2 separate regions of the Homo sapiens genome follow, and region 2 is linked to region 1. Evidence: fine-mapped expression QTL. A gene starts in region 1. The other region holds a variant in brackets. All regions are shown on one strand. Distances are between the middles of the regions.

What was found. PIP is the estimated chance that this variant, and not a neighbour inherited with it, causes the effect.
Region 2: its variant is fine-mapped to the expression of RIOX2 in whole blood (TOPMed, PIP above 0.99).

What each region holds. Positions count from the first base shown.
Region 1 is chr3:97,969,638-97,975,173 of GRCh38, reverse strand. RIOX2 (ribosomal oxygenase 2) reads left to right here and starts at 2,743. Exons shown (of 10, transcript NM_153182.4): 1 at 2,743-2,793. LOC124909398 (a long non-coding RNA gene) reads right to left here and starts at 2,521. Exons shown (of 2, transcript XR_007095976.1): 1 at 1,364-2,521; 2 at 52-308. RefSeq lists a silencer at 2,559-2,998 and an enhancer at 3,269-3,528.
Region 2 is chr3:98,001,143-98,006,142 of GRCh38, reverse strand. GABRR3 (gamma-aminobutyric acid type A receptor subunit rho3) reads left to right here. Exons shown (of 10, transcript NM_001105580.3): 8 at 4,376-4,528. Among named protein-coding and RNA genes, the nearest start is that of RIOX2, 31 kb to the right of the region's middle. The variant A/G (reference allele first, on the strand shown) is at 2,656.

The DNA of each region.
Region 1 (5,536 bases):
AAAGCTCTACAGGAAGAAGAGCCTAGGAGACCACAGAAGAGGAAGACAAACTTGGCTCTAAAAAGAGTCTTTTAATAAAGCAATCCAAACGGTGTGAACGTCAAGCACCTCTGCAGAAATGTAACTTATTTTACAAGGCTCATGGACAAGTCTGTTTCAGGGTTTATGGCCGAGACATGAAGGGAATTCTCTTCTTTCTCCTGTCTCCTTGGCATCTTGTTCCTCAGTTACAGAGGAGGAGCGCTAGTCTGTTGATTAGAAATCTGGAGGCTTCTAGACTTTTCCGGACAGATCTTGAGAGCTGCCATCTACAACATTGTTTTCATGAGAAAATTAATTACAGAAACAAAATAACTGACTTTTAAATGAACCTATGGTGGGGACTGGATAGCAGTCTGCATCTTGTCCTCTGGAAGAACTTTTCCAAAAAAAAAAAAAATACCAGAAACAATACATGTAGGAAGGCCATATATTCTAGAAGCCTCCCAGGCAAGGTTGCAGACCATTCTCCACTCCCATCCCATGCCACCCTTACTTCCTCACCTCCTCTTCCTCCTCTCAGGCAAGGTTGCAAGCCATTCTCCACTCCCATACCATCCCACCACACCCTTACTTCCTCCCCTACCTCCTTCCCTCCCTCCCCCTTCCTCCCTCCCTCCCCGCCCCTTCCTTCTTTCCTTCCTTTAGACGGAATTTCGCTCTTGTCACCCAAGCACAAACTAACTTTCCTTCTCTTTTTCTTTTTCTTTTCCGAAACAGAGTTTTGCTCTTGTTGCCCAAGCTGGAGTGCAGTGGTGCAATCTCAGCTCACTGCAACCCCGCCTCCCTGGTTCAACCAATTCTCCTGCCTCAGCCTCCTGAGTAGCTGGGATTACAGGCAGGCACCACCATGCTTGAGTAATTTTTTTGTATTTTTGTTAGAGACGGGGGTTTCACCATGTTGGCCAGGGTGGTCTTGAACTCCTGACCTCGGGTGATCCACCGGCGTCAGCCTCCCAAAGTCCTGGGATTATAGGCGTGAGCTACCGCACCTGGCCCCTTCTCCTTTTCTTCACAGGAATGATGGGCACTGTTTAGGTCTGAAAATGGAACTATCATGACTTTTTTGCTTGCTATGCTAAGAAATCGGAATTATAATGAAAAAAATCAGAGAGAACATACTGATATACTAATTTTGCATTAGAGGAACTCCTACACAAGATGTATGATTTCCCCCTGCAAAGCTGACTTCCATATGTACTTTTGTTCTGTTAGACATCCTGCGGCCATTTTATATGCTGAGAAAATGGTATTTTGTGTTGACATTATAACTTTTTTCTACAACCGTACTGCTTTTCCAAGTGGTGGACGTGTGAGAATTTACCTTTATCTGAATCCCGGGAACAGCAATATTATTCTATATTATCTTGAGTAGATGTCTTGCAGTCAAAATAAAGAGCGAAGTACATTACCAATATCATATCAACTAGAGATTTTTGCTGTTGACTATTCTTTTTTACCCTGTAAGGGCTAAATTTGATGTTACCCTCGAGTTTTTCCAACTGGAACCTGCCAGGAAACTTACTAGTTATACGAGTATTAGTAAAACGTGAAAAAGACCAACAGTTGACTGACTGGTTTGGCTCTAATCTTGTTTCTGCATCTTCCTAGCTGTGTGATCTTGTGCAAGTTAGTTAACCTCTCCTGACTCAGTTTCCTCAACTGTAAAATGGAGGTAATTGCAAGGTTGTAGTGAGGATGAAGTGAGGAGTATTTGAAACACCTAGCGTGGTGCCTTATAGCCAGGAAGAACTCAATTCAAGACTTGCTATTATTGTTAGTTTTAGACAAATACTAGACAAGGGTGTACTTTGTTCCCATTTGTTCATGTGCCACTTGATCCTTAGAAGCAGCCACTGGTCTCAGTCACCTTGACGGAACGAAATGTCGACTTCCTCTGGGTCCTCTGGCTGTCTACAGAGCAAAGAAAGGCACAGGCCCGCCACTGATTTCCCTGCTCCCTCATTTGTGCCTCCTGACTGGAACCAAATGTTCCAAAGCAGGGAGTGTTAGGCTGAAAGGACTCAGATAACTGCATTTCTTCTGTTTCTATAGCCATAGTCGCAACGAATTTCCAGTATCTTTTAAAACTAGGATTGACTCTCTCTCCCGGAGCGAGATGATATAAATGACACTCGGCTTGTACAAATCAGCATTGTGTAGCCACACAGCCCATAAGAAAGCCATGGGAGAACCCGGACCACCAACTCCCTAAACTTGCACCGCTGGTATTCCTCTTCAGGCCTGCTTCTCTATTCATAAAAGGAACGGAGTTGCACCAAAACGCTCTCTCAAATCCTCTCCTGCCGCCCCAAGTTAAAAGAAAAAAAAGGAGAGCCGGGTGGGTGGCTCACACCTATAATCCAGCACTTTGGGAGGCCGAGGCAGGAGGATCGCTTGAGCCCGGGAGGTAAAGGTTGCAGTGAGCCAAGATCGCTACCACTGCACTCCAGCCTGGGCGAGAGTGAGACCTTGTCTCACATACCATAAAAAAAAAAAAAAAAAAAAAAAAAAAAAAAAAAAGAGGAAAAAAAAGGCCATTTATTTCCTTCCATATGGACTAAAGAAACGCCCGGGCGTGAACGCGGAACACCGCCGGGTAGCCAGGCCTCCGGGCTGCCACCACTTGCGGGCCGGCGTGGCGGGGCGGGGCGGGGGCTGGAGCACGGCCCGGAGCGTGCCCACGCTGCCCCGCCTCCAGCCGCTGCGCCGCAACGCAGTGGGCTCGCGGCCGCGAGCAACAGGCCGTGCCGGGTGAGTGGGGCGCTCTCGTGGGCATCCCAGCGCCGGGGCAGGCCGGGTAGTGCCCGATCCCGCGGGGCGCGCGCTGCTGCTTTAGGCACCCGGGCTCGGGTGCGGGTCTGGGAGACCTGTCGGTCGGCGAGAAGCCTCGGTGGCCGGCGCTGTGGTTGCGGGACCTGGGACGCGCTCCCAGGCGTCCCACCTCCCCGGAGACTGGGGCAGGGTGGGTGGGGCCCGGATCTAGGGGTAGGGTCGCGGAAGCCTTGGTTACAGAGAGTCGCACACGTGGCCTGCTAATGGTCGCGACACCGGTGACGAGCGCACGGAAAGTTTGGAGGCTTAGCAAGGAGGGTGGTGCCGGCCTCCGCCCGGTGGTGGCAGAACTGCCTGTGCGAGCACGGCTTCCACGTGGGCTGCGCCGCCGGGCGTCATGTCGGGCCTAAGAGACACGCTCTACAGCTGTGAAATCTGAAGTTCAGGTGTGTGGGGAGAAGGGCAGCTGCATTACATCATATGCTTCCAATTCATTTACCAGCAAATAATTCCGCAACGATTGGCCGACAGCTGGGTTGTCCAACAGGTTACTGAGACCAGGTTATTCACTGTTTTCAGGAAGGATAGACTGGGAGGAAGAGGATCTGATTTCGCCACTCATTAGCTGTAAATCTGGTGCCTCGGGTTTCATGTCACTGGGCTCATCTTTGAGCAGAGGAACCTGATTTACTCAGCTTCTTCTGCTGGTACTGGTTTTTGCCTCCTGGACATCAAGCTTTGTAACCTCATGGTCACGAAAATACATTGAGGTATAGTCCGTTTCCTCTCTAAAATCAGACTAAAAAGATAACTGCTGATCACTCCTTTAGGTCAATAGGAGAACCAGTTTTCCCTCTGGATTGATTAACATATCTCTGAGCCAAAAAGAAATGTTTTAGATCAGTCTGGGCAACCTTGTTACAAGCAATATATAATTTCTGACAGCCGTGTGTTTAACTGAGCTGCGTTTGACTGTTGTCCTCCATTAGTGGACCTAAAATTCATCTAGAGAGCGTATTACGTTAATGCAGATTATGGGCCTCAGCCATCAGAAGTGGCAATCCAGTGGGCTTGATGAGGGCCCAGAAATTTGCATGCTAACAACCTTGCTGGTAACTCTGAACTACATTCTGTAAAACTGCCCAGGGGATGTAGAAATTCATACTTCCCTCCCCGATTTAGTAATAACTACTGATGTCTAAAGTGCCTTTTAGCTTTTACGATACTCTTGAATCCTGAAGTGACAGCTGCAATCAGAAAAATAATCCCCTCTGCACAGGCCATCTGTTTTTTCCGTAACTGTTTTGTGTAAGGCCTTTGTGGTTTGTCTCCAAAATTGTATACAGACAAAAGATGAAAATGTGAAAAATTCAGCAGACATTTCTTGAGGACCTCCTATGTACCACACCGTGCTTGTTTCCGGGGATATACAAATCCTTTCCTTCAAGAGCTTCCTCACGTCTTCATGTCCTCAAATATTATAGAAAAGGAGGTTAGGGTACCTTTAAAATATAGTGACTGTCTGTCTGTTGCCTATAGTATGGTTGTCAACATTGATTTTCTTATAGGGTTTATCTGTGGGGTAGTCACCAAAGTATGAACTGTAAATCTTTTAGTCTTTTTACATTTAATGCTTATAGTCAACTCAAATGGAAAACAATTGCTCTTCAAAAACTTTTCTGTGATTTTACAGAAATATTTACTCCTATTGGGGTGGTCTCTAAGGCTTATGGGCAAGGTTGTGTTGGCTGTACTATTCTAGACAAAGCATTGTCTTCTTTAATTACTATAGTATTGGATTCTAAGATATGTGTTTTACTTCTTGCTGTTTCCGAAATTATGATATGTACCTTAAGACTTTTGTATGTTTAATGTGGTAGGATGCTTCATCTATTCTCCCCTCTGCTCTAGAAAGCTGTTAAGAGGAATGGTTGTCTTACAGTATGAGTAGTGTGAGAATCAGAGAAATAATGTATTTGCCCAGAAACCTCTAAGCTTAGGCTCCAATTAACTGAGCCTCAAATCATTTCAACATGAACACAGAGAAACAAATGATGTAACTTTTGGCAGTATGGGTAGTGAAATTTATATTCTAAGGAAAGCATTTGTTATACAGTATTGGGGTTTGTTAGTGATTGTAGATGGGAAAGATTCTTTTAAGTGATTTTATTTTGGCTTAAGTGTTTTGCATTCTTTGATTAGCCACACTTTCTGGTGAATGTGCTTATACTGTATTCATATATTATGCTTAAAGAAAAGCTTTTCGTTTGCATCTTCCTCCTGCTCTCTCCCCTTAAATGAATTTTAAACTGACCAATTGTGAGAGATAAGAGATGTGTGGCTGAATATAAAATGACTCTATAGGGTGCCTTTAGTAATACAAACCTAATAAACCAATCTAAGTTTTTAAAAATTAAACGTGAGCAATGTGCTGTGGTCCCCAAGGCCATCTTTAGTTCAGCAATTTGCTAGGAGGACTCGGCTGATTTATTACAGGGAAAAGATATCAAGCACAGTCAGCAAAGGGAAGAGGCACATGGGTGAAGTTCTGGGGATACCAAGTGCAAGGCTCCAAGGGTCTTCGAGCGGTCACACTGGCTGTGCTCAGTTGCTCCAGCAACTAGTTGTGTCAACACTTGTGAAATGTTGCCAACCTGCGAAGCTTGTTAGAGACTCAGTGCCCAGGGCTTTTACTGGGGGCTTTTCACTTAGGCCACCCCTG
Region 2 (5,000 bases), 31 kb before region 1:
ATTTTTCTGCTCCTCCTTCTTCTCCTCCTTTTCTCGGTTTGTCTTTCTCTATATGAATAAATATAGGCATATATTTATCAGGATTTTTAATGTTCTTACTTAATCCTAAATTAAATTAATATTTAAATAAAAGAATGTATGCAATGAAGCATGGTATATGTGAAGTATAATTTATAGGATGTGTTTTCATTTTACTATTGCTAAAATGAAAAATAACTTTGGCATATGATAAATTGTAAATAGATATTTGCAACATTTAATGCTAATATAATGTAATATATATGAAGCATAGAAATCAAAAAGAATTGTCTCATGCACAGAACATATGCAAAATATACAATAATTATGGCATTTCTTTAGCTTTTGAAGCACAACTATCCATTAACATATATCCAACCGTCCTCCTAACAGGAAGTTAAATTTCACTTCAAAATTCTAACTTTACCACTAAATCATTCCATTTGCTCTACCATAATTTTATTTGTGCTTGTCAGACTTTTTGAGCCCTACCAGGCAGCTACAACACTAGCTGATTTATATCTTTTTCTGGTCATGTTTTAGAATCTCTCTAAAGCCAGGAAAATACTGGCATGGAAAAACTTACTGCTTACAAAGATGCTTGCATTTTAAAATGAACTTACAAATCTTTAACGTTCAAAGGTAGTTACATTTTTAAGAAATATCATTTTGGTTCCTAAGAAAAATGAAAAAAAATTAGAATTAGGTTCAAATGTACATGCTTTGTGTAACATGAGAAGGAGACTTATCCATAATACATTAATATTCTTTAAAAGCAAGTTACGGAAGAATATATTTTAAAAATCCCATATTTGTTATTGAAGAATGTATGTATACATATTTATGAGTGCATGAGTGCTTATATACATATCTGTGCATATCGTGTGTGTGTGTGTGTGTGTGTGTGTGTGTGTTAAAAGCCTAGAAAGATTAACAATAGATACCTCTGAGAAGTAGGTACAAAAAACACTTGTATTTTTTAATTTGTTACAATATACCCATTTTTTTTAATGACAGAGATTGGTAGGAAAAATGCCGAAGGGAGGCATTTTGGAAGTTGTATTCAAATATCAAATCAATAATCATATCTGGGTTCATTTAACCATCCCTTAGTTAGGTTTCGGAAAGATTACATTTAGAAACTTATTTTAGTTCATGAGCATGTGATAGCTCTGCCTCACATTATCCACGAATCATTAAACATAATCTTCTGACAAACTCAAGTGTCTTTTTCAGACTAGTTTCCTGTTTAAATATTTTAGCTTCCTCAAAAATAATTTTTGATTTGTTTTCTTCACTCCTATCCTTACAACTACCAGCCACAACCACCACTCCCAGGTGTATAGAAAAACTATACATCTGACTCTGGCTATAAGAGTCAGAAATATAGTTATAGGACCTTAGTTTCCATTTTACAGCTGAACAACAGGGTGTTTTTTTTTTTTTCTTGGCCTTCACCACTACCGTTGCCACTGTTCAAAAATCACCACGACCTGGCAATATTAACAAGCAGATGAGGGCTTCTGCCTCCTGATCCCTTTCTCAAAATTCTCAAAATCATGCACTATAAATTTACAAAGAAAAAAGAAATGACTCCTGCCCCTAAGGGATGCATTGAATAATTATTCTTTATCATAGCATAATCTAATGGCTGAATGTGTAAGTAGTAGAAACAGACTGCCTAAGTTCAAACCCTGTCTCTATCATTTATTAGCAACCTGACCTTGGACAAGTTGCTTAATCTCTCTAACCCTTAACTTTCTCATCTTTAAATGGGTTTCATAATACTCTCTATATCATAGGGTTGTGAGGATACATGATGTCATATAGTTAAGTACCTTAGAATGTTATCTGCCATATAATAGAGGCTCAATAAATATTAGTTAGTAGCTGTCATCATCACCCTATTTTCATCCACATTATTTTGATCCTTTTCATAGAGAGTATTAAGGCCTACTTTCAAAGGGCCATTGAAGGTGACTGTCTCTAGGTATAAAAACCTTCTTTATTCTTGTCTTGGGACTGACTCCCCAAATACTGGCCCAGTCCTCCATTTCCCTGGGTGCCAACTCTCTAGCCTTTTTCTCTCTGTTATTAACTCCTCTTCTTTCTACTGTATGGCAAACTAATGGAGGCAGATGTACCCGTCCCCATCCAAAATTTAGTTCAGATGCCAAAACTGATGATGCCATACACATGACAAAAGGGTATGAAGTGATTTATTACTTACATAATGAGGCTTTCTAGAGAGAGATGGGCAGGCTCCCAAGCAGGTCTGAAATGAAAAATGGCTTGAGAAAACAGGAAGGGGCTACTGGCTTGGGTTTTTATGGTAGCTAGGGGGTGCAGCTAGGGTGAAGGCTGCCTGTCGTAGGACAAGATGCATGGTTTGAACTTTTCACAGGTGCCAAAAAGAGACCTAGGCTTTTTATTAACTTGCTCAGATGTAGGGCAGAAGGAGAAGTTGGGCTTGAGAGCTTTTAGCAGTCAAACATCAAAAATAGAATCAGACTTTTTATTGTACTACCCAAAATGAAGGCTTCACAACGTTCCAAGGCAGCACCACCTTTCCTGATAGGGAAATGGACTCCCCATGACCTGCAGGTTCAACTAAAATACCACCCCTAGTCTAAAACC[A/G]CAAGACAGAGCCACAGTTTGACTTCCTGGTTACTCCACCCTGCCCCCACCCCACCAAAAAAAAAAAAAAAGGACAACTGTTCTTCAGAAAATTATGAATAAAGAAAGGATGCAGTTAACTAATTTTATTTCAAGTTAATAATGAACAGAAAACTATATACCTTAATACTGTCTTTCTTTTGAATTTCTTTCACAGGTTTTCCTTATTTCTTTTAACCTCACAGTAGTTATATAAAGTTGTAAGGTCAGAAAGCTGTTATTGTACTCTACAGCCATCACTGAAACTCTCAGTGGTACACAGTAATAAATTGGGGCTGTGATGTAGGTGATACAAGACAATGAGAAGCTTAAAAATAATTTATATTTTAACTTTATAATGTACTATGTGATGTATATTTTATTACTCCTGGTAATAAAATTGTTTGGTATTCCTGAACATATATAAACTGACTGTTAGAAGCTTAGAACTAGGTAAGGAAGAAAAAGATAATGAGTATTTCATTGAGAATAGGATTCTAAGAGTAGAGTCTGCCAGTTCAGTGTGGGTTGGCCAGGTGTATTTCTTAGGCCAAATGCCTAAGTACTTAAGTGATCCATCTAATAGGTTTGCCGTCTTGGGTTTCTAAGAAATTACTGCTGAGACTAGCAGAAGGGTTTTCCAACTCTGCAATACCTATGATTTTTATTTTATAACTTTTGACCTATAGTCCCTGTGTTTTGAATAATGTTATTTGAAAATAAACAGCATTTATCATAGAAAAAAAATCTTGCTACTTATTCAGAAAAGATGTATTTCCATGTTTCCTCATGTATTGCCTTATTTTAGTAAAGATTTAACAAGATTAGCACATAGTTATTGTGAAATAAAGCAAGGTAATATAAATTAGAAATGTATGAGAAAAAAAAGAAAAACAAGGATAAGGTATTATATATATCCTGGTATGTGTATGTGGTCATTAAAGAATGGTGCTCAGAGAAGTCCTGTAGATGTCTGAAAATTTGGCTTTAAACTTCCTTGTAGTCAATGGGAGAGGTAAACCTGAACAAAATGTGTGTGTGGATGTCACCACAAATGGTGCTTTTAATTAGCGCAGTTAATATTACCAACGTGAGTTTATATAATTTCAATAGGAAGCAAAGAAACATCAGTTGGTTACTTTTTTGCAGATTCATCATGCACAAATTATGGTACTTGTGAGACTTTAAAATTGTAAAACTAGCTTATGGATGCTGTTTTCTTTCTCCTTTGAATCCCCAGCTGTCTCCATCTCAGGTCAAAATCCAATGACCTAGTACATACTCTGAATCTTTTCATTCAGTTAAATGTTTTTTTCATTTGTTATAGCTAATAAATGGTTTATTGGTTCTTTTATGCCATTATTAGTCATGTATTGAAGACTTTCCCTCTTGCAGAAACGCCACAATACAATATATTGTGGAGACAGATCTTTAGAGGCCATCCCACAAAAGATAACCACTATTCATCCCTGAACTGCGGGTTTGGAAGTTAAAGGGGATCTTTGAGTCAAATAATTAAGCAGACTGCAGTTCAGCTGGTTGAACAAATGTTGATGGAGTGCCAGGCCCAACTAAATGGAGATGAGTTTGTCAAATTCCGTGTCCCCAAGAGCTTGGAGTCTAAAGAAGCAGGTCATTTCACTAAGTGCAGTGTTTCTAAGGGGAAGCTTGCTCTAATGAAAACTTTGGCTTTTTTCCACAGGTTGGTACAATAGGCTTTTCATCAACTTTGTGCTAAGGAGGCATGTTTTCTTCTTTGTGCTGCAAACCTATTTCCCAGCCATATTGATGGTGATGCTTTCATGGGTTTCATTTTGGATTGACCGAAGAGCTGTTCCTGCAAGAGTTTCCCTGGGTAAATCTTTCCCCATCTTTATAAAATGTTAACATGGGAGAAAGTTCAAGGGAGGTAAATAAAATGGGTCATACATGGAGAGGAAAAGAGAGTGGTGGTTTAGTAGGGATAGTCAGAGATGAACATCCAGGTTGCAGTATCGATCTTGACATCCTCAAGGGCAAATTGTAATTGAGTTCTTTCCTTGGGAACCCGGATTTTAGGGATGAAGTCTTTGCTGACTGACCTGCAGTTGGGTGATAGTAAAGAAAGGGGGTGAAATTATGAAGCATAAACAGCCTCACTTTTAAAGCTTATCTCTTTTCTTTTTTAAGAAAACCTCCCCATGCTTTATACAAGTCCATTTAGCTTTTCAGGACAAACCCTTACATCACAGAAAGGAAAACCTTCAAACTAATTCACACTATACTCTTAGTGTATTAATAACAAATTACCTTGGTGGGTTAACAAGAATGTGGAAGGGATGCTTGAA